Linked DNA regions of Homo sapiens. The protein of the gene in region 3 purifies or fractionates together with the protein of the main gene of each other region. This does not show direct contact. Each region holds a gene or a part of one and is shown on either strand. Other genes may lie near its edges.

Region 1 (5,025 bases), on a different chromosome or scaffold from region 3:
ATTCTGCCTCTGCCACTTACCAGCTGTATGATATTGGGTAAGTTACTTAACTCAGGGCTTCCATTTCCTCAACTGTAAAATTGGGAAAATAATGGGTGTATATTAAGGAAATCTTAGACTACTGTCTGGTGTGTAATTAGCATTCAGTAGTTATTAGGTGAATACAAAACTTATAAATGTTTTGGATTGAAATAGCTTTCCTTTAAGCGTTCAGTTTCATATTAGATTTACTGCCGTATCCCTCCATCTTACCTAAATGAGAAGACTGTAGCTACTTAGAGTGTATGCTTGTAATTTTTCTTTAGTCTTAATGAAACATATTCCATGTATCATAAAGCCTACTCTCGATGGCTGTAGCACTGCAGTCATTATGTTGTAATAAATAAGGCTCTGCTAGTAGAGCCTAGACACTGGGAATTGTAATTGGTCCTTTTCTAATGTGTGTAGCTGTGGTAAAATTGAGCCCTTATTCAAGTTCTTGTCCTTTTAATTGCATTTCAGGTGGATTCTTTTGTATGATGACTTATAAAAGCTGATCCCAATTATGGATCAGTGGTTTCTAACGTTGGTTTTGTGAAATGTTATGATCTGTTATCTAAAAGGAATTTTTTTTTTTTTTTGCTTTAACATTGTAATTACCAAACGACCTCTGTTTGAGAGAGGAACATACAGAGGACCAAGGGTAAGCTGTAACTTGAAACTTACATAAAACTTTTTAGTTACCTGTGGTGGTTAAATACTTCATGGTTTTGGACTTACTCCACATTTTGAATGTGTTAATTCAGCAAACATTTATTTTAAGAGTACTTAACCTACTCTGTGCTAAGCAGTGTGCAAGATATAGTAGGTAACAAGACATGAAATGACTCACTTCATTTTATTTACCATTTAGCAGGAAAGATAGGTGTTGAAGTCTGGGAACATCAGGAAACACTTCCCTGGTGTAATGTTTATCTCAGCTTGGAAGGATGAAGAATACTTTGCTGGGGCAAAAGGATGGGATTGGAGACCTGTGAAAGCGTTATAGGTTTGGTGAACAGATTGTATGGAGGTCCTAAAAATGGACAAAAAAGATATGTTGGAGGAATTGAAAGAAATAGAAAAAAGCAAAGGAGAAGAATGGCAGTGGAAAGCTCCAGAGATAGGAGCCAGATCACACAGGACTTTGTTGAGTCATGTTTAAGACTTTGGATGTTATTGAAGGATAGTGGGAAGCCAGTGAAGGGTTTTAGGGCAAGAGGGTTTTCAGATGGATGTTTAAAAAAAAAAAAAAAAGCCTGGCTGTGTTTTCAGCGTGAAATAGAAGTCTGCATATCTGTATTTACTGTTTCATAACTTCTGTACATGTATCAGGGTTCTGAGTTTCATAAATTATTGAAAATAATTTTCAATGTCTTTTTCATAAATTGAGAATTTTGAACTTTATTAAAATTGTCATCTTGAAATGCTTAAGATTGATGTTTTGTTATCTCAAAGATTTGCTTAGTCATACTTGCCAATAATATGAAACTAAATGTTAGTCTTTTTTCTAACATTTCGTTTTGATGATGAGAAGTCCTGAAAAAAAAATTAAGCTCCTTTGTTGTAGTAAACTTTTAAACAAACAAAAAAAACAGAAAACACTTTCTACTGTATTTAAAACTTTTAGGTGGACTTACACATCAAAGTCATGTTTTTTTTTTTTTCCTGAAGAGACACCTAAACATCTAATGAAACTTTAATTTTTTAGAAAATAAAATTGAGGGGCAGGTGGATGTAATGACGTACTGAGGTTTTGTGAGTTGAGTAGTAAAGAACAAAATGCCTAGTGTTGTGCTTCTGCCACTGTGTAGTGCTGTGGAGGAAGTGTGTGGTGGAAGGAAGATCTCTGTGTCCAGATCAGTATTCAAATCTCACTTCTGCCATTTATTAGCTGTCTAGGCAAAGAAACCTCCTCTTTCCTTATTGGTATAATAGGAAGAATTACAGTATTTCCATCTATAGTTGAAAGGGTTGAATGGGACACATGTTTGTGAGCCTTGCCCTTCCCCTCCTTTCTTAGATATTGGTTGATTAAACACAGATAGGCTACATTACTACTGTTGCTACTGTTAGAATTATCACCAACACTCCTGCTGTGACTACCACCTAAACTGTATGCATTGTTGTTAAACATTTTGTATTATTGTACTTACAAGTTTTATGAGGTAAGCATTGTTATCTCTCCATTTTGCAGGTGATGATACTGAGGCACTGAAGCATGAAGTTATTTGCCCACAGTGATTTAAACTAAGGCTTTTTGACTCTAGAGCTGTGTGCATATTCTTAATTTACTACTACAGAATGCAGCATCCTAGTGTTTTCTGTTACTGCATATACTTTTTTACTATGACATTTTGATAGTATTGGCTACTATTGTAAAAGAACAAAGTTCTAAAGCATCGTGATTATCAGTGCTTTAGAGTTTAAGAAATAAACATCTTTGTGGTTTTTGTAGTATTTTTCCCCTTCACCTGTACTTGTTACTACACCTTTCTCACCACATTAAAATTTATTTTTGTTCGTGTCTGATAGGAAGAGTTATTCTTTTGGGTTGGCTAAATGATCTTTTTACTCCTGAACTTTTGAGTATTTTTGATTCCTTTGACCTTTCCTTTTCAGTTGGCTTCTTTTGGCATAGTAAGTCCATTTCCCATTCTTTAGGAAAAACTCAGCAATAATAGCAAAAAACAAAACAAAAGATAAAACGCTTCTAGTCACTTTCTTGCTAGCTTTCTGTTCCTGTCGCTGGTAAATCTTGAAGTAGTAGTCAGACTTTTAATTTTTTGTTAATTTGCCCTCAGCCATTTACTTCTTAATGTCTTGGAATAGAATTTCTTCGTTGTAATATAATTACAACCAAAATTACTTACCTCAGTGTTACCAATCAATTTATATTTATTGCCTGAAGTTTTATATTTTTTGCCCTATGCGTGTATAACATCAGTGTTGATGCCACCTTTTTAACTTACTTGCCTTGAATCCCTAATGTGTTGGTTCCTTTTCTTAAGTCAGTCTTACCCTCTTTTGTTCCTTTTCTTCAGATTCTAATTGTATTTTTCAGTGTTGTTACATTGACATTTTTTTCTTCATCCATTTTTTACTTCTGACATTTCATTAATTACTGCTAAGATTTGAATGTTTGTCTTCTCCAGAATTCATGTTGAAATTTAATTTCGTTAAGTATTAAGAGGTGATTAGGTCACGAGGGCTCTGCCTTTGTTGATTGGATTAATGCCTTTATAAAAGGTTAGGTTTTGCCTCTGCCCCTCTGACTTCTGCTATGGGAGACCTCTGACTTCTGCCATGGGAGGAACTCCGGAGGATGCAGTGTTCAAGGTCTATCTTGGAATCAGAATTGCCAAACCTGCCAGTACCTTGATATGAGACTTCCCAGCCTCCAGAACTGTGAGCCAATAAATTTCTTTATAAATTACCCATCTTGTGGTATTCTGTTATAGCAGCACAAACGGACTAAGACCTTTCCCATGAATGGTTTTCTTTGTAATACATGCCAGTGGTTCTTAAAAACTTTTTTTGGAGTGTATATTGTAGATCCTTTAAAGTCTGATTAAAGACTGTCTCCCTAGGATTTACAAATACATACACATTTGCATTGAATTTCAGAGCTTTTCACTCTGAGCTTGTTAATGGATTCCAAACTAGAACCTCTACTCTGCATTTATTTTCACATAAGTATGTTTAGACTTAACCACTCTTCACAGTCTTAAGCTTTTATCTCTAATTGCTGGCTGTATATCTGCTTGGATCGCTCATCTAAACTTCAAACTAATTTCTGAAAAGAAGTGTTTTCTGGATTCACTTATTTTAATTTCATTTCTCCAAATTATGCTGGCTTGAAATTTTTTGGCTTCTCCTTCCTCCCATTCACTTAGTCATGAGGTTCTCTCTTAATAATCCTTACTGACATTGCTTAGTAGGGGGCTCACACTCCGTATCTAAATGATTGCAGTTTGCTTCCTAACAAATCTGTTTTTATCTCTAGGCCTTTCTCCCTTCCAGTTCTTCTGACATGGATGCCCAGCCTTGTTTGTATCCCATTGCTTGATCAAAACCTTCAGCATTCCCAGATAATAAATTGCATACTTTTTAGCTTGCCTTTAAGAAAGCTAATGATTTGCTTTAAATTATCTTTTCCATTTATATCTTTCTACTTTTTATATGAGTCTTAATTTCAGCAAAGCTGAACTTTCGTGATTCACTGTCATTTTTTTTTATTGTTTCTTTTTTCTGAAACTTTACTGTTTCTTTTTTCTGAAGATTAGTAGTGGGCACCATTTATTGAGTGCTTACTATTAATATATGTTAATTGTTATACATTCATTGTGTGCAAGATAGGTGTTAGGAAGATGAATTAGCATACTTTATTCATAGCTAGTAAGTGATGGAGACAGGATCCAAAAGAAGACATTTTGATTCCAGAGCCTTGTTGTATTATGGTGTACTGTCTTTATATCCTTTCTTTGTGTTGAAGTCAAAGATCAAGTGTGATTCCAGTTCTTCCAGAAAGCTGCCTATGATCTATCCAGCTGGGTGAAGTGACTCCTCCCACCATGACTCCTCTCTCTCAGCACTGGTTTCAGTTGTCATGACACTCATCACTTGTACATTAAATTATTTAGTCGTGTTATTTTAGCTTTATTATTAGAGTCTCAGGCCCTTGAAAGCAGACTCCAGCTCTTAAGATTTAACTATGTTCCTGTTCATTATATACATTATCTAGCACAATGCTTTGTGTGTAGTATATACCTGATTATTAAATGCGTTAGTTGAAATTTCAAGTTTGTGTACCTAAAACCAAGGGAAGAGGCAATAATTTGGGTAAAACTATAGAATCTACCCAACTTCAGAACAGCAGATATGTGAGCTATTTGAAGATTAAGTAGTCTTTGGGTCTACTTCTTTCCATTTTTACTCCTAGCATCTTCAGTTTAGGTAAAGCTTAAGTTCAGATTTTTTTTTTCTTTGAGAGGGAAAGGTCATTGA
Region 2 (5,025 bases), on a different chromosome or scaffold from region 3:
CTGAATGATTCTAAATATATCTGAAGCTCCCAAAAATGCATACCTGGCAATCTTCTCCAGCACCACCAGACTGATTCAACAAATGTGATGCATCACTCTGGTTACCACCTGCATGTCCAAGACGATGTTTAACAGGAACTTTGTTAAGAACATATGCACCTGATGTCTGTGGTTTGCTCATCATCTGCACATACAAAATGAACACTTATGTGGCAGAAGTTTAAAAACATGCCTAGAAATGGTACAAATTTAAGATGATTACTCTAGGGAAGAAGATAAGAAAATGGGAACGGGAAGGTGCTTCAATTATCCGTAAGGTTTTATTTTTTAAGGGGAACTGGTGAATATACAAATGATAGATTATTCATACTTTTTGGGATGTCTAAAACATATCACAACAAAATATACATGCACCTACACACAAAAAAACCATTAATTATTTTTTAATGTTTCCTCTAGTATGCAATGCTCTGAAAGAATTAGAGGGTCTTGGCTGGGCACAGTGGCTCACACATATAATCCCAGCACTTTGGGAGGCCAAGGTGGGTGGATCACCTGAGGTCAGGAGTTCAAGACCAGCCTGGCCAACATGGTGAAACCCCGTCTCTACTAAAAATACAAAAATTGGGCAGGGGTGGTGGCATGCACCTGTAGTCGCAGCTACTCAGGAGGCTGAGGCAGGTAGCCTGAACCAGGAGGCAGAGGTTGCAGTGAACCAAGACTGAGCCACTGCACTCTAGCCTGAATGACGACAAAGCAGGACTGTCTCAAAAAAAAAAAAAAAGGAAAAAAGAAGAAGAAAAGAATTAGGGGGTCTTAACTGACAGTGGCTTAATATGAATAATTGTGAAATGATCACCTCAAAAACATAATGCAATCTTGGGCTGTACTAACAGAACATGTTTAATCATCACCATGAAGGTGATAGTATGAACTCTTTTCTACACTATTCACCCAACATCTAGGGGAAGCATTCACCTTTGCACCCTTACATGAAGTGGGATACAAACATAACTGAAAGAGAATTTAGATGCAAATGAGCAGGATGATAAATGGAGTTGATGCCATGTACTGTAAGGAATACTTTTTAAAAATCTGACTGTATTTAATCTAAGCATGAGATTATCTAGGTCAATCTCTGAATGGCTCTGATGTGTGGTAGTTTGTTGTTTTGTTTTTTCCTTCCTTCATCTATTCAATCAAATATGCTTTGAGCAATATGTACCAGACATTGTTTTAGGCACTAGGGATAGAATGGACACAACAGGCAAAATTCCAATTCTCTTGGAGCTTCTATTCCCATTTTTAGAAGGAACATATAACTTTTTTACATGGGAAAAAGGAGGGCAAATGGGTAGACACAAAAAAGACTGATTCTAAAAAATAAATAGCTCTACAGTTAAAGTTGCTCTGTGGTAGATGGTTATTATACTTTAGGGTGCATAACAATAACTTAAGAGTACTTGTTAAATATGTATATTTATAGGCCCTGTATCTAGAGACTGACTCTACAGAGGTTTGAGAAGCTGAAGCCCAGAAATTTGCACCCAGGTAAGTGATTCTGATGTAAAATAGCAGGTCTCAAACTTTAAGGTATGTAAGAATCACCAGGAGAGCTTGTTAAAACACAAATCCTTGGGCCCCACCCATAGGGATTCTGATTCAGTAGGATGGAGTATGGCTCAAGAATCTGAAATTTTTCCCCCAAGAATCTGCATTTCTATAAGATCCCAGGAGATCAGATGCTACTGGTCTGCAGTTCAAATTAAGAGTAGCTCTTCTGTAGAAGACCCAAGGACCAGGAATTGAAAAATACTGATCTAGAGGGTGTAACTAAAAGACCTTTAATTCCCAGTGAACCAGATTACCTTCTGGATACCTCCGTGCACTGTTGAAGGAGCAGACTGGGCCACTAGCACCTGCTGCTGATGTAGATGCTGTGGCAGGTGATGGTGCTGCTGTGAGAGGTGACTAAGTGTTTGCTGTTGTTGCAGGAGCAGCTGTGCTGAGGACTGTAGTGTCGGTTGCTCATTATTTTCCCTATGCCACAAGACTCGAATGAATCGGTTGTTTAGAACTGCTTCTGTGCTAGAAATGGCTTTCCTGGCCTCCTCATTGGTAAGATATTGGATTAGGGCTGCTTCTGGGTCACCCTTAAAAGCAACCTTGAAGAAAATAAAACAATATAAATTCCCAAAAACAGAAAATAGTTAAATAAATTATGACCCACTGCTATGTAATGAATGTTTTCCCCAAAATACACATGTTAAAGCCCTAAACTCCAACATTACTGTTTTAGAGATAGAGCTTTTAGGATGTAATTAAGGTTAAATGAGGTCACAAAGGTGCATCCTAATGAATAGTATCGGTGGCCTTAAAAGAAGAGAAAGAGATCTGCCCTGACCCCCTCTTTCTCTTTCTCTGTCTGCCATGTGAGAACACAAGAAGCCAACCATCTGCAAGCGAGGAAGACAGCACTCCCTAGGAAATGAATCATCCAGCACCTTGATCTTGGACTTCTCAGTCTCCAAAACTGTGAGGCTACCCATTCTCTTTCAGGAAGAGATTGCAGAAAAGAACCAAATGAATTCACAAGAACAAACATGGTTTAACAAGTCCATCATAAAAGTGGGTATATAGATATATGGTGGCATTTACAGCACTTAGCAGAGATGATCAGAATAACCACTGACTCATTTAAACAAGGTGAGCTGATAGAAATATTCCCAAGACCCATAAAATGCCTGGATTCTGTCACTGACATAGCCACATTTACCTGGATATTAACAATAGTTCCAAATTTGCTGAAGTGTTCATTGAGCTTGGTAATGTTGTTCAATTCCTGAGGGATTTTCTTGACTTCTAATTTGGTGTTTGTATACTGATTCTTTCGTAAGAACCCTGGTTTATTTTGATTGTTATTTCCTTGCCTAAAAGGAAGATTAATACATCTTGGTTAATTCTCCTACTTCATGCCTAGCAAAGAGATATAACCACAAAGAATTTAGGTTTATAATTTTTTTAAGTGCCTTTTGTGGCTGGGCATGGTGGCTCCACCTATAATCCCAGAAAACTTCTTCAAAATCATATGAAACATTATATTCAAAATTCAAACCACAGAAAATACATAAGCATCCAGAAACAGATTACAGGCTGAGCGAAGTAGCTCATGCCTGTAACGCCAGCACTCTGAGAGGCCAAAGCAGGAGGATTGCTTGAGCCCAGGGGTTCCAGACCAGTCTGGGGAACATAGTAAGACCACATCTCTATGTAATAAATTAACTGATTGATTAATTTGTTTAAAGTTCCTTTTGTGAGCCCTTAACATTCTTCGGAAATTACTAAGCAATTTTCACATTCTTCTTTTTTTTTTTTGTAGACGGAGTCTCACTCATTCGCCCAGGCTGGAGTGCCGTGGAACAATCTCGGCCCACTGCAACCTCCACCTCCCAAGTTCAAGTGATTCTCCTGCCTCAGCTTCCTGAGTATCTGGGATTACAGGTGCATGCCAACACGCACGACTAATTTTTGTATGCTTAGTACAGACAAGGTTTCACCATGTTGGCCAGGCTGGTCTTGAACTCCTGGCGTCGGTGATCTACCCGTCTCGGCCTCCCAAAGTGCTGGCATTACAGGTGTGAGCCACTACGCCCGGCCAACATTATTCTTTTTTTTTTTTTTTTTTTTTTTTTTTTGAGACGGAGTCTCGCTCTGTCGCCCAGGCCGGACTGCGGACTGCAGTGGCGCAATCTCGGCTCACTGCAAGCTCTGCTTCCCGGGTTCACGCCATTCTCCTGCCTCAGCCTCCCGAGTAGCTGGGACTACAGGCGCCCGCCACTGCGCCCGGCTAATTTTTTGTATTTTTAGTAGACACGGGGTTTCACCTTGTTAGCCAGGATGGTCTCGATCTCCTGACCTCATGATCCACCCGCCTTGGCCTCCCAAAGTGCTGGGATTACAGGCGTGAGCCACCGCGCCCGGCCACATTATTCTTATTACATGAGAATAGAAAAGGTGAACAGCAATAGATTACAAAAAGAAAAGGCCCAACTAACACTTAAAATCATATGCTAAATAGATCTACCATAAAGATCTACCACAATTATCAAAGACTCTAACATCATTAAATGAAGGCTAGAACACCACCTTTTTTTTTTTTTTTTTTTTTTTGAGACAGAGTTTTGTTCTTTTTGCCCAGACTGGAGTGCAATGGTGCAATCTCAACTCACTGCAACCTCCGCCTCCCAGGTTCCAGCGATTCTCCTGCCTCAGCCTCCCAAGTTGCTGGGATTACAGGCGCGTGCCACCACACCTGGCTAATTTTGTATTTTGGCTTTCTCCATTTTGGTCAGGCTGGTCTCGAACTCCTGACCTCAAGTGATCCACCCGCCTTGGCCTCCCAAAGAGCTGGGATTATAGGCGTGAGCCACTGTGCCCAGCTAGAACATCATCTTTAACGGCATATTTTCAACTTCTGCAAAGGTACTAAGCTTTTTTTTTTCACCGTTGATTTCATTTTTTTCTTCTTTTCTATCCATTGCTAGTGTCTCAGTAATTTCTAATATTGGGTTAGGCGTAGAAATAGGTAGGTACGAATTAGAAATACCTATTTTGGGCTGGATGTGGTAGCTCACACCTGTAATCCCAGCACCTTGGGAGGCCAAGGTGGGTGGATCACCTGAGGTCAGGAGTTTGAGACCAGCCTGACTAACAAGGTGAAACCCCATCTCCGCTAAAAATACAAGAAAATCAGGTGGGCATGGTGGCTGGCACCTGTAATCTCAACTACTCAGGAGGCTGGGACAAGAGAATCACTTCAACCCAGGAGGCAGAGGTTGAGGTGAGCTGAGATTATACCATTGCACTCCAGCCTGGATGACTACGTCTTTTAAAAAAAAAAAAAAAATTATAAATATTGTTAACTTTTTAATTTTTACAACATTCTAAAGATGTCTCCTGGAACCCTAACTTCAAGATACCTAGTTTGAAAAACATTAATTAATGACAAATCTTATTTTTATGAAT
Region 3 (5,025 bases):
ACATGTGTTTATAAAAAATGGTTAAGTATATAATAAATTGAACATCTTTGAGATTGGAGAATTATGTGAGATTTCCACATTATGTTTACTGGGTTCAATACTGTCCTTGCTTGTTTTATTGCAGGCAAGCAAGGCAAATGGCCTAAAATGCTGTGGCTTATATTTTGATAAGAAATCAAAAAACCATTGGTTAAAAGATGCAACTCAGAAGTCTGGAAGTATTCTGAAAGCATCCATTTACCGTCCAGTTGACAGGTTTGAGTCTCCTGCTTGTATAGGTGACTTGTGCCCATGGGTACATTAAAGGAACATGCTGCCCAGGGCCTGGGCGGACAGCTCAGTGGGCAGGATGTGTGCTGGGTCTCAGCCCCATGTGCCTGCTTGCTGGGCAGTTAGTATAGGGCAAAGCCTGCCTGCGGCGACCCTGGCTGCTAGGCCATTCTCTAGGAACAGCTGCGACTCATAAAGACCAAGAAGCATAAATAAACTTTCAAAAATTTATTTGGCTCTTTCGTTAAAAACTGTGCAAATTAAAAAAAAAAAAAAAAAAGTAAGACACCGGCTGGGCACAGTGGCTCACTTCTGTAATCCTAGCACTTTGGGAGGCCAAGGCGGGCAGATCACTTGAGGTCAGGAGTTTGAGACCAGCTTGGCCAACATGACGAAACCCTGTCTCTACTAAAATTACAAAAATTATCCAGGTGTGGTGGCACGGGCTTGTAGTCCCAGCTACTTGGGAGGCTGAGGCACAAGAATCACTTGAACCCAGGCGGCAGAGGTTGCAGTGAGCCAAGATTGCACCACTGCACTCCATCCTGGGCAACAGAGTGAGACTCTGTCTCAAAAAAAAAAAAAAGTAGTAAAAGTTTGACATGATTATTTATTTAGTTTTAAACCTTTTTATTATAAAAACATACAGGAAGTGACACAAAACAAATGTATAGCTTATTGAATGATTATGATTGTAAGGTGAATAACCTTTGTGTCCACCACCTGGTGAAGAAATAGTACTTTGCCAGATACCCCAGGAGGCTCTCCCAAGTGCCCCTCCAGCCACAGCCCTCTTCTTCTCCCCCTCCTTGCCCCAACAAGTAATCCTGACTTTTACAGAAATGACTTTCTTGGTTTTTTGATGGCAGTTTAGTCTTGTCTGCTTTTTTTTGTTTATTTTTTTATCTACTTCAGTGTCCATTTGCAGTCCCGTCGGCCTCACTGTTTTCCCTGCCGTTTATCTGTTGAAGAGCCTGGGCTGTTTGTCCCATGGCTTCCCACAGTGTAGATTTTGCTGACCACGTGGTCATGGTGTAGTTCAGCATGGTCCTCTATGTTTCCTGCACATTGGCAGCTGGGTCCAGAGGCTTGATGAGCCTCAAATTTGATCCCTTTGGCAGGAGAACAGGCGGTTAGGAGCTTTCCTCAGGAAAGTACCATGTTGACGGCAGCTGATGCTCAGTGCCAAGATCCATTAATTATTTGGGGTTGCAAAATGGTGGTATTCTCATTCTGTCGTTTTGCTTGCCTTTATTAGCTGGAATGGTTTTCTAAGAAAGTGTTTTCTTTTTTATACTTATCTGGTTACCCAGTGGTACAGTTCATATAGGAAGGGCAGGATAAATGCTTGATTCTTTGCTCTTGTACACTAAGTTTTTAAGATAATGCATTAGTTGTCTGTCAAGGAAGGTGAGTGGTGAAGGGTTTTTACATATATACAAGAATTCATGGGCTGGGCATGGTGTCTTATGCCTGTAATCCCAGCACTTTGGGAGGCTGAGGCTGGAGGATCACATGAACCCAGGAGTTTGAGACTAGTCTGGGCAACATAGTGACACCCTGTCTCTACAGAAAATTAAAATAAAATCAGGTGGGTGTGGTAGTGCCTGCCTGTTGTCCCAGCTATTCTGGAGGCTGAGATGGGAGGATCGCTTGGGCCCAGGAGGTCGAGGATGCGTGAGCTGTGACCATGCCACCACATTCCAGCCTGGGCGACAGCAAGTCCTTGTCTTAAAAAAAAAAAAGAATTTGTGGAGTTAAGCATACTTGGTGGGTTTCAATCCGTTGTGATTTTTATCTTTATTTAGCTCAGACTAGCTTATTCGGTCAGTGAGAGGGAGCCTCTTCAGCTTGGCTCTTGCTTTCTTTTGATAAGTGTGCACATGTGTGCATACATGTGTGCACAGACCACACGCACAGTCATTGATAGCTCCCTGCAGCCTGGCATGTCAAGATGCTCTAGGCCCAATTTATAGAGCTTCTGCTCCAAACCTGTCTTAAAAGAAAAACTTTAGACAAGTTAGCAGTTTAATTGAGCAGAAAATAGTTTCTTCAGCTGGGTAGCACTCAGGACCAAAAGTGGTTCAGAACGTTCTCCTGTGCGTTGTGTGCAGGCTGTATTTATTTATAGCCACAGGAAGGGAAAGACACATGTACATGGCCAGACTGACTGCAGGTCAGCCTCCACCTCACATAGGCATGTTTTGGGAGCCTTCAGCATGTGATTGGTGAGACTCTGCTGCTTGTTACAGAAGTGTACTCTCAAGTCAGGTCCCAGTTTGCTTATACATTAAGTGAGGTTATAAGTCACTATGTACAGAGGCAGTTTTAGGCCAAACTTAATTCCGTTTAACACTTGGAATCCATTATTTTTCCCAGAGTCTCTGGTAGAGATGGTATTTCAGATCCAGTTTAGGATGCTCATTGCTATTGCGTTGGTCATTATTTCTAGATTTTTGGACGGAGCTTTAAAAAAATACAAACATTGCACACACATATTTAAAGGAAGAATATTTTCTGAGCCTATATTGATATTCCCAATACAAATTCAGGGTCCTGGGGCCTTTACATAGCCTCCTCTATATGATGTCTGTGTCTCCTGCACTCGGAATCCTGCTTCTCAAGACACAGGACAATGGCATGGAATATCCATCCCTTAATCACTCACTTGTTTTATTCCTCTTTAGCATTTAGCATTTAAAAAAAATACTAATACCATAGCATTAATTGTGATGATGAAAACAGCACTGTGTCTACGTTGTCAGAAAAATTGCTCCTTTTTACCACCATTGACTCATTTCTGTGTGTTCAGGTCTCATAACCAGTCTATAGTCAGTGTCATCTTGGGGACAGTATTCCTTGAGTTTCTGATGTTGAATTCAGTTTTGCTGGATACGAAATTCTTGGCCCAGATTTTCTTTGAGTATCTTGTTTTATTCTGTTTTCTTCCAGCATAAAGTGATGCATGAAAAGCCTGATGAATCTTGTTTTCTTCCCCTGACAGTCATATGCTGTTTTTCCTTAGATGCCCAAAGGATTTTTTCCTTTTTCTGTCAAGTCGGCCGTTTTATTCGAATGTGTCATGTGTTGGTATTGGTTGTCCTGGTCCATATTTGCAAGCGTATGGTGTGCTCTTTCTATGTGTACTTCATATCTGTTATTTTAAGAAGATTTGCTTGAACTGGAGTTTAGTGTTACATTTTTCTTGCTTTGGCTTTTTTCTGTGGGGATCCCTGTTATCTGTATGTTGAAATCTAAATTGGCTGTTCTCAGTGTTTGCCACTGTCTCTTGAATCTCTTTTATCTCTTTCTTTGTTTCTTTTTGAGTTTTAAAAGTTGTTATTGTACCACTTTTGTTTTGTTTTGTTATTTAAAATAGGAACAGTGTCTCACTGTGTTGCCCAGGCTGGTCTTAAACTCCTGGCCTCAAGCGATCCTCCTTCCTTGGCCTCCCAAAGTGCTGGGATTACAGGTGTGAGCCACCAAAGCCGGCCCCACCTTGCTTTTTAAAACAGCTCTGTTGAGGTGTAACTGACAGGTAATGAACTGCACATACGTGAAGTGACCGATGCATTTGCCTGTGAAGCTGTCGCCAGAACATGTCCATCACCACCAACAGCAGTTTCACACCCCGGTCTAAACCGTCCCTCGTGTCCTCCATGTTCAGGCAACCACTGGTCTGCTCCCTCTCACTAAAGGTTAATTTATATATTCTAGAATTTTATCTGAGTGGAATCGCAGAGCAAGTACTGTGGGGGGAGGTGCTTCTACTCAGCATAATTATTTTGGCATTCACCCATTTTGTGTACATCAATAATCCACATTTTGTATTGCATGGATATACCACAGTTTATTTATTTACCTGTTGACCGATATTTCGATTATTTCCAATTTCTAAATAAAAATAAAGCAAATAAAGCTGCCGTGAACATTTATATCCTCGTCTTTGTCTTCTGTTTCTCTTGGGTAAATGCCTTGGAATGGAATGCTTGGTCATATGGCAGGTGTGTGCTCTTTTTTTCTTTTTTTTTTTTTGGAGATGGAGCCTCACTCTGTCACCCAGGCTGGAGTGCAGTGGCGTGATCTTGGCTCACTGTAAGCTCTGCCTCCCGGGTTCACACCATTCTCCTGCCTCAGCCTCCCGAGTAGCTGGGACTACAGGTGCCCGCCACTACACCCGGCTAATTTTTTTGTATTTTTAGTAGAGGTGGGGTTTCACTGTGTTAGTCAGGATGGTCTCAATCTCCTGACCTCGTGATCCGCCTGCCTCGGCCTCCCAAAGTGCTGGGATTACAGTGTGAGCCCAGCCAGCTGGTGTGTGCTTTTTAAGAAACTGTGAAACTTTTCCAAGTGTGAACTTTACACTTTACATTCCCTCCAGTCAGGCAGGAGAGTTCCAGTTCACTCCACATCCTTGTCAACACTTGTCACCTCATTCTGTTACAAATGTCCATAAGTTTTTTGGTTTTGCTGTTTAGTAGTTCTGTTTTTAGGTGGGGATTTGAGAAGATTCAAAAAGCATGCTCCTGCTGCTGCCTCTGTCTTCTGAGAATCTGTGATTTAAAAAAAAAAAAATTGAACCAGAATTGGAAATAGATGAAAAGTTGTGCCTTTAGAAACTTTACGGTCTGTGGGATTTTCACAACACAGATGATGTTGGCTGGGCGCAGTGGCTCACGCCTGTAGTCCCAGCACTTTGGGAAGCTGAAGCAAGTGGATCACGAGGTCAGGCGTTCAAGACCAGGCTGACCAAGA
Region 4 (5,025 bases), on a different chromosome or scaffold from region 3:
ATCTCAGCTCACTGCAGTCTCGACCTCCTAGGCTCAAGCAATCTTTCCTGCTTCAGCCCCGCAAGTAACTGGGAATATAGGCCAGGCTAATTTTTGTATTTTTTGTAGAGACGGGGTTTTGCCATGTTACCTAGGCTGGTCTCGAAATCCCGAACATAAGCAAACAGCCCGCCCCGGCCTCCCAGAGTGCTGGGATTACGGGCATGAGCCACCACACCCAGCTATTTATAGATAACTCAAGGTCAGGAGTTCGAGACCAGCCTGGCCAACATGGCAAAACCTCATCTCTATTAAAAATACAAAAATTAGCTGAGCGTGATGGCACATGCCTGTAATCCCAGTTACTCTGGAGTCTGAGGCAGGAGAATCACTTGAACCTGGGAGGCGGAGATTGCAGTGAGCTGAGATCGTGTCACTGTACTCCAGCCTGGGTGACAGAGACTGTCTCAAAAAAAAATTAAAGTTAAAAAAGGAAAATAAAAAATAAAATTATCCACCATTAAAACAGGGTTGTAAAGTAAGTTAGAGCAAATTAACAACAAAATGAGCCCAGAAAGGGCAAATCATTTTTTACCAGCTAAAATGAGTAAACTACTACGTTTGGTAGAGTTTAAGACATCAGTTCCATGAAGAGGACCAGAAATAAAGACCTGAGAGTCTTGCCAAATATGACAACTGTTGCCTGGGAAAACAGATCACCATCCAAAATTTCTGTTATTGCCATTTCACATCCTTTTGTTAGCAGGACAAATATTTTAATGTATAAGGGGAACTCACTATTTCAAGAAAGAATACTTTTGAACAACAAATAACAATTGCTTTTGGTATTCATTGAATGAGTACTTTAAGTATGCAGTTGAACCAAGGTCAAGTAGAAGCTTGTAGACTACATTGGCAAGCATTAATGGTTATCTTCCTAAAGCTTTCTCAGTTAATCTATATTTATCTTCAACCACCAAAAGTTCAGTCTGATCCACACATCTGTTTTAATCAACTAACTCATCAATCAACATATACTCATCTCTTAAGAAGTGCTAGTCTATTTTTTCATGTTTAATAAGCCACCACCTACACACACACACACACACACACACACACACACTCTCTCTCTCTCTCTCTCTCTCTCTATTTTATATCAGTCTCTGTTTTCATAAAACTTCAACTAAAGATGGTGTTAAATTAAAGATGGGTGTTTCTGGATGTTTTAGGCAAAATGAGGGAGTGGAGGTCCTTTTAAAAAGTTGTTAAATGATTTTAACACTCTTGACAACATTGAAGAGGCAGACTTTGCATCAAAAAGCTTACTCTATGACAGACTGAGTCAAAGGAAGAAATTTAAGTTTCCCTAAAATAACTAGATATAAGATATCCTTTTTTTTTTTTTTTTTGAGACAGTCTCGCTCTGTCACCCAGGCTGGAGTGCAGTGGTTCAATCTTGGCTCACTGCAACATCTGCCTCCTGGGTTCAAGCAATTATCGTGCCTGAGCCTCCTGAGTAGCTGGGATTACAGGTGTGTGCCACCATGCCCAGCTAATTTTTTTTTTGTATTTTTAGTAGAGACAGAGTTTCAGGAAGTTGTCTGGGCTGGTCTCGAACTCATGGGCTCAAGTGGTCTGCCCATCGTGGCCTCCCAAAGAGCTGGGATTACAGATGTGAGCCACCATGCCTGGCCTTCCCTTCTCATATTTTAAGTTATTTTGGGCACAAATATCAGATTCACTCACACACACACACACACATATTTTGAGATGGAGTCTCGCTCCTGTCGCACAGGCTGGAGTGCAGTGGCGCAATCTCGGCTCACTGCAACCTCCACCTCCCCAGTTCAAGCGATTCTTCTTCCTCAGCATCCGAGTAGCTGGGATTACAGGTGTGTGCCACCACGCCCGGCTAATTTTTGTATTTTTAGTAGAGACGGGGTTTCGCGATGTTGGCCAGGCTAGTCTCGAACTCCTGATCTCAGGTGATCCATCCGCCTCAGTCTCCCAAAGTGCTAGGATTACAGGCGTGAGCCAGCATGCCTGGCCCCAATCTTTAAGATTCTTTAATATAACCAGAGAAATTATAACATTAGGAGTGACATGAGGACGCTATAAATGGTATGAAAGAGCTCTCATTATGATTTTTGGCTGTTTTCTTATACCTTTCTTCCTACTGCTTAAGCATCTATAGACATTGAATGCTGAGCCTCACTGAGAGTAGTGTCAGTAAAAGACCTACTCACTCCTGCACTAAGAGTAAAAAGGAAATACAGAAATCCGAGGACTTGCCAGTCAGGTAATTTGATGCTTCTTTATAAGTTACCTTAAGATTACTTAAAATTGTGGTGCCAATAGCAATGAAACTTCTGTACTGGCACAAAGAAATGTCTAGTTCAGTGAATAAATGTTAATTTTCATTGTTAGCCACAAGATGCTTTAACATTAGAGCAATATGATCAGAATTAACTGCAAAACAATGTGAAGAAAACCAACCCATGGAAGCATTACTGACCAGGTGCCACATTTGAGCTGCCCTGAGATTTCAGCTGTGAAGATGGCAGCACACCCTGGGGTGTGTTGGTTCTGCTGTCATCCAAGCCCAGAGACAAGTCCTTCCTGGGGGCTTTAATTGTGGAAACATCATCAGTCATGCCCATCTGCTTCTGTCTTCTTCGCTTTTTACTCCATAACTCATGACAATCTTGCCATAAAGGGAGACTGAAAAAAAAAAAGGAATTAAATTGTAAATGGCATTTCTTAACAAAAAATGCTACAGTTACTATATAGCAACAAAGTTATGCCCCCACCCCAAATAGTTCTTGAAGACTTCATAGAATGGCTCTGTAAAACTCTTCCAATAAAAATCATCCTTATTGTCCCACTTCCTTCAGGGCTTGCTTTGCCTTTACAGATAATCTATTTTTCTTTGGCTTTTGAATAATCAATAAATAATCATTTATCAAAATTATGAATGAAGAATATATATTCATAAAAATAGGCTACTATGCTGGGCATGCCTGTAATCCCAGCACTTTGGGAGGCCGACATAGGTGGATCATCTGAGGTCAGGAGTTTGAGATCAGCCTGGCCAACATGGCAAAACCCCGTTTCTACTAAAAATACAAAAATTAGCCAGGCGTGGTGGCGGGCACCTGTAATCCCAGCTACTCAGGAGGCTGAGGCAGGAGAATGGCATGAACCCGGGAGGTGGAGGTTGCGGTGAGCCGAGATTGCGCCACTGCACTCCAGCCTGGGTGACACAGCGAGACTCCGTCTCAAAAAAAAAAAAAAAAAAAACACCACTATTGCTGTTGGTGCAACCTTTCAAAGTCAGTTCTTATGATAGTACATCATACACTGAATAAGACATGAAAAAGAAGGCAGAAAAATATGCCATTTCCAGCCAGGCACAGTGGCTCACGCCTATAATCCCAGTGCTTAGGGAGGCCAAGACGGGAGGATTGCTTGAGCCCAGGAGTTCAAGACCAGCCTGGGCAACATGGCAAAACCCTGTCTTTGCCAAAAATACAAAAATTAGTTGGGCATGATGTTGTGCACTGCAGTCCCAGCTACTTGGGAGGCTGAAGTGGGAGAATAGCTTGAGCCCAGGTGGTGGTGGTTGCAGTGAGCTGAGATCATGTAACTGCACTCCAGCCTAGGCGACAGAACCAGGCCCTGTCACACAAAAAAGAAAAACATGCCATTTGCAGAAACCAGATATGGGATAAAAAAGTAGTAAAGGGCCAGGCGCAGCAGCTCATGCCTGTAATCCTGGCACTTTGGGAGGCTAAGGTGGGTGGATCACTTGAGCTCAGGAGTTCACCAGCATGGGCAACATGCTGAAACCCTGTCTCTATAAAAAAATTAGCCAGTCATGGTGGCACATGTCTGTAGTCCCAGCTACTCGGGAAGCTGAGGTGGGAGGATGGCTTCAGCCCAGGAGGCAGAGGCTGCAGAGAGCCAAGATCATGCCACTGCACTCTGGCCTGGGTGACAGAGCCAGACCCTATCTCAAAAAAAAAAAAAAAAAAAAAGAGTAAGGCTAGAACATAACATTTGTGAAGAACTTAACAGTAAAAGCTTACTTTTTACTAACTTGCTTGTCTATCCAAATGCTCTAGAATTAAACTGATGCTACAGACGAGTTTTCAAAATAGGTAATCCTGGCATAGAGCGGCTCATCATTTATCAACAGAGTTGCGAATAACAACTATCAAAACTGCCCACAATTCCTAGTCAATTCTATCTTAAAGTAACTTCATACAACTGATAACACTAGAGAATAACTTTTGCTTAAAGATACAAATATTTGGTTTATAAATGCTTTCTTCTTACCCTAATTAAGTATTTAATGGAACGTTACTGTTGTACCTATTTTAAAGATGAGAAACTTGAGGCTTAGAAAGGTGAATAAACTTGCCCAGAATATCTACAAATTCCCTTAAGCAACCCCACCTGGTAATATATACCTATAATCCTCAACCTGGATCTGTTTACCTCTAGGAGGTACCCGAAGACTCTCCAAGAGGGTACACCTGGAATTTTTTTAAAGGAATTTCCATATCCATATGTCTGCTTTCCTAAGACTGAGCTTTGAGGATGGCCTGCTTGTTTAAGCAAGTTCTTTTACATCTCCTCTTTCACAATTAGTCATGTTATAAAATAAAGGCAGATGCAATAATATGGTTGAATCTTAGCAATATTAGTTTAAAAAGTCATTCCCAAAATATTACAAACAGCATGACGCGCTTTTATAAAATTAACAACTAAAATTTTTAAAATATAACCTTTTATGAGTACATATAGATGGCAACAAAAAGTATATACAAAAGAAAACAGGGATGATGGTTACCTCAGGTGGAGGAAGGCAAGGGGATAGGTTGGTGGGGGTAGGGGTAATATGATTACAGTATGTTATTTTCAGCATTCTAGCTTTTGTTTGGTAGGTTCATGGCTGCTTATTAACATTATTAAAAATAACTAAAGTAACTAAAATAAATAAAAGAGAGCCATGCATGGACCAATGATGAGTGACACAAGGAT

What was found. The genes of interacting proteins can lie anywhere in the genome.
Region 1: the proteins of RNASEH1 (region 3) and RBM26 purify together in Homo sapiens (affinity purification with mass spectrometry; one large-scale study listed by BioGRID and IntAct). This does not show direct contact.
Region 2: the proteins of RNASEH1 (region 3) and RBM27 purify together in Homo sapiens (affinity purification with mass spectrometry; one large-scale study listed by BioGRID and IntAct). This does not show direct contact.
Region 4: the proteins of RNASEH1 (region 3) and CDK13 purify together in Homo sapiens (affinity purification with mass spectrometry; one large-scale study listed by BioGRID and IntAct). This does not show direct contact.

What each region holds. Positions count from the first base shown.
Region 1 is NC_000013.11:79,398,686-79,403,710, reverse strand, and holds part of RBM26 (RNA-binding protein 26), read left to right. Parts: exon of another isoform or gene 1-682; intron 683-5,025. UniProt on the Homo sapiens protein: May be involved in the turnover of nuclear polyadenylated (pA+) RNA.
Region 2 is NC_000005.10:146,258,650-146,263,674, reverse strand, and holds part of RBM27 (RNA-binding protein 27), read right to left. Parts: intron 2,931-5,025; coding exon 2,777-2,930; intron 2,166-2,776; coding exon 1,869-2,165; intron 185-1,868; coding exon 44-184; intron 1-43. Other genes in the region: RBM27-POU4F3, read right to left, coding at 44-184, 1,869-2,165, 2,777-2,930. UniProt on the Homo sapiens protein: May be involved in the turnover of nuclear polyadenylated (pA+) RNA.
Region 3 is NC_000002.12:3,540,610-3,545,634, reverse strand, and holds the end of RNASEH1 (ribonuclease H1 isoform 1 precursor), read left to right. Parts: 3' UTR 1-4,205; downstream 4,206-5,025. UniProt on the Homo sapiens protein: Endonuclease that specifically degrades the RNA of RNA-DNA hybrids.
Region 4 is NC_000007.14:40,085,801-40,090,825, reverse strand, and holds part of CDK13 (cyclin-dependent kinase 13), read right to left. Parts: intron 2,701-5,025; coding exon 2,495-2,700; intron 1-2,494. UniProt on the Homo sapiens protein: Cyclin-dependent kinase which displays CTD kinase activity and is required for RNA splicing.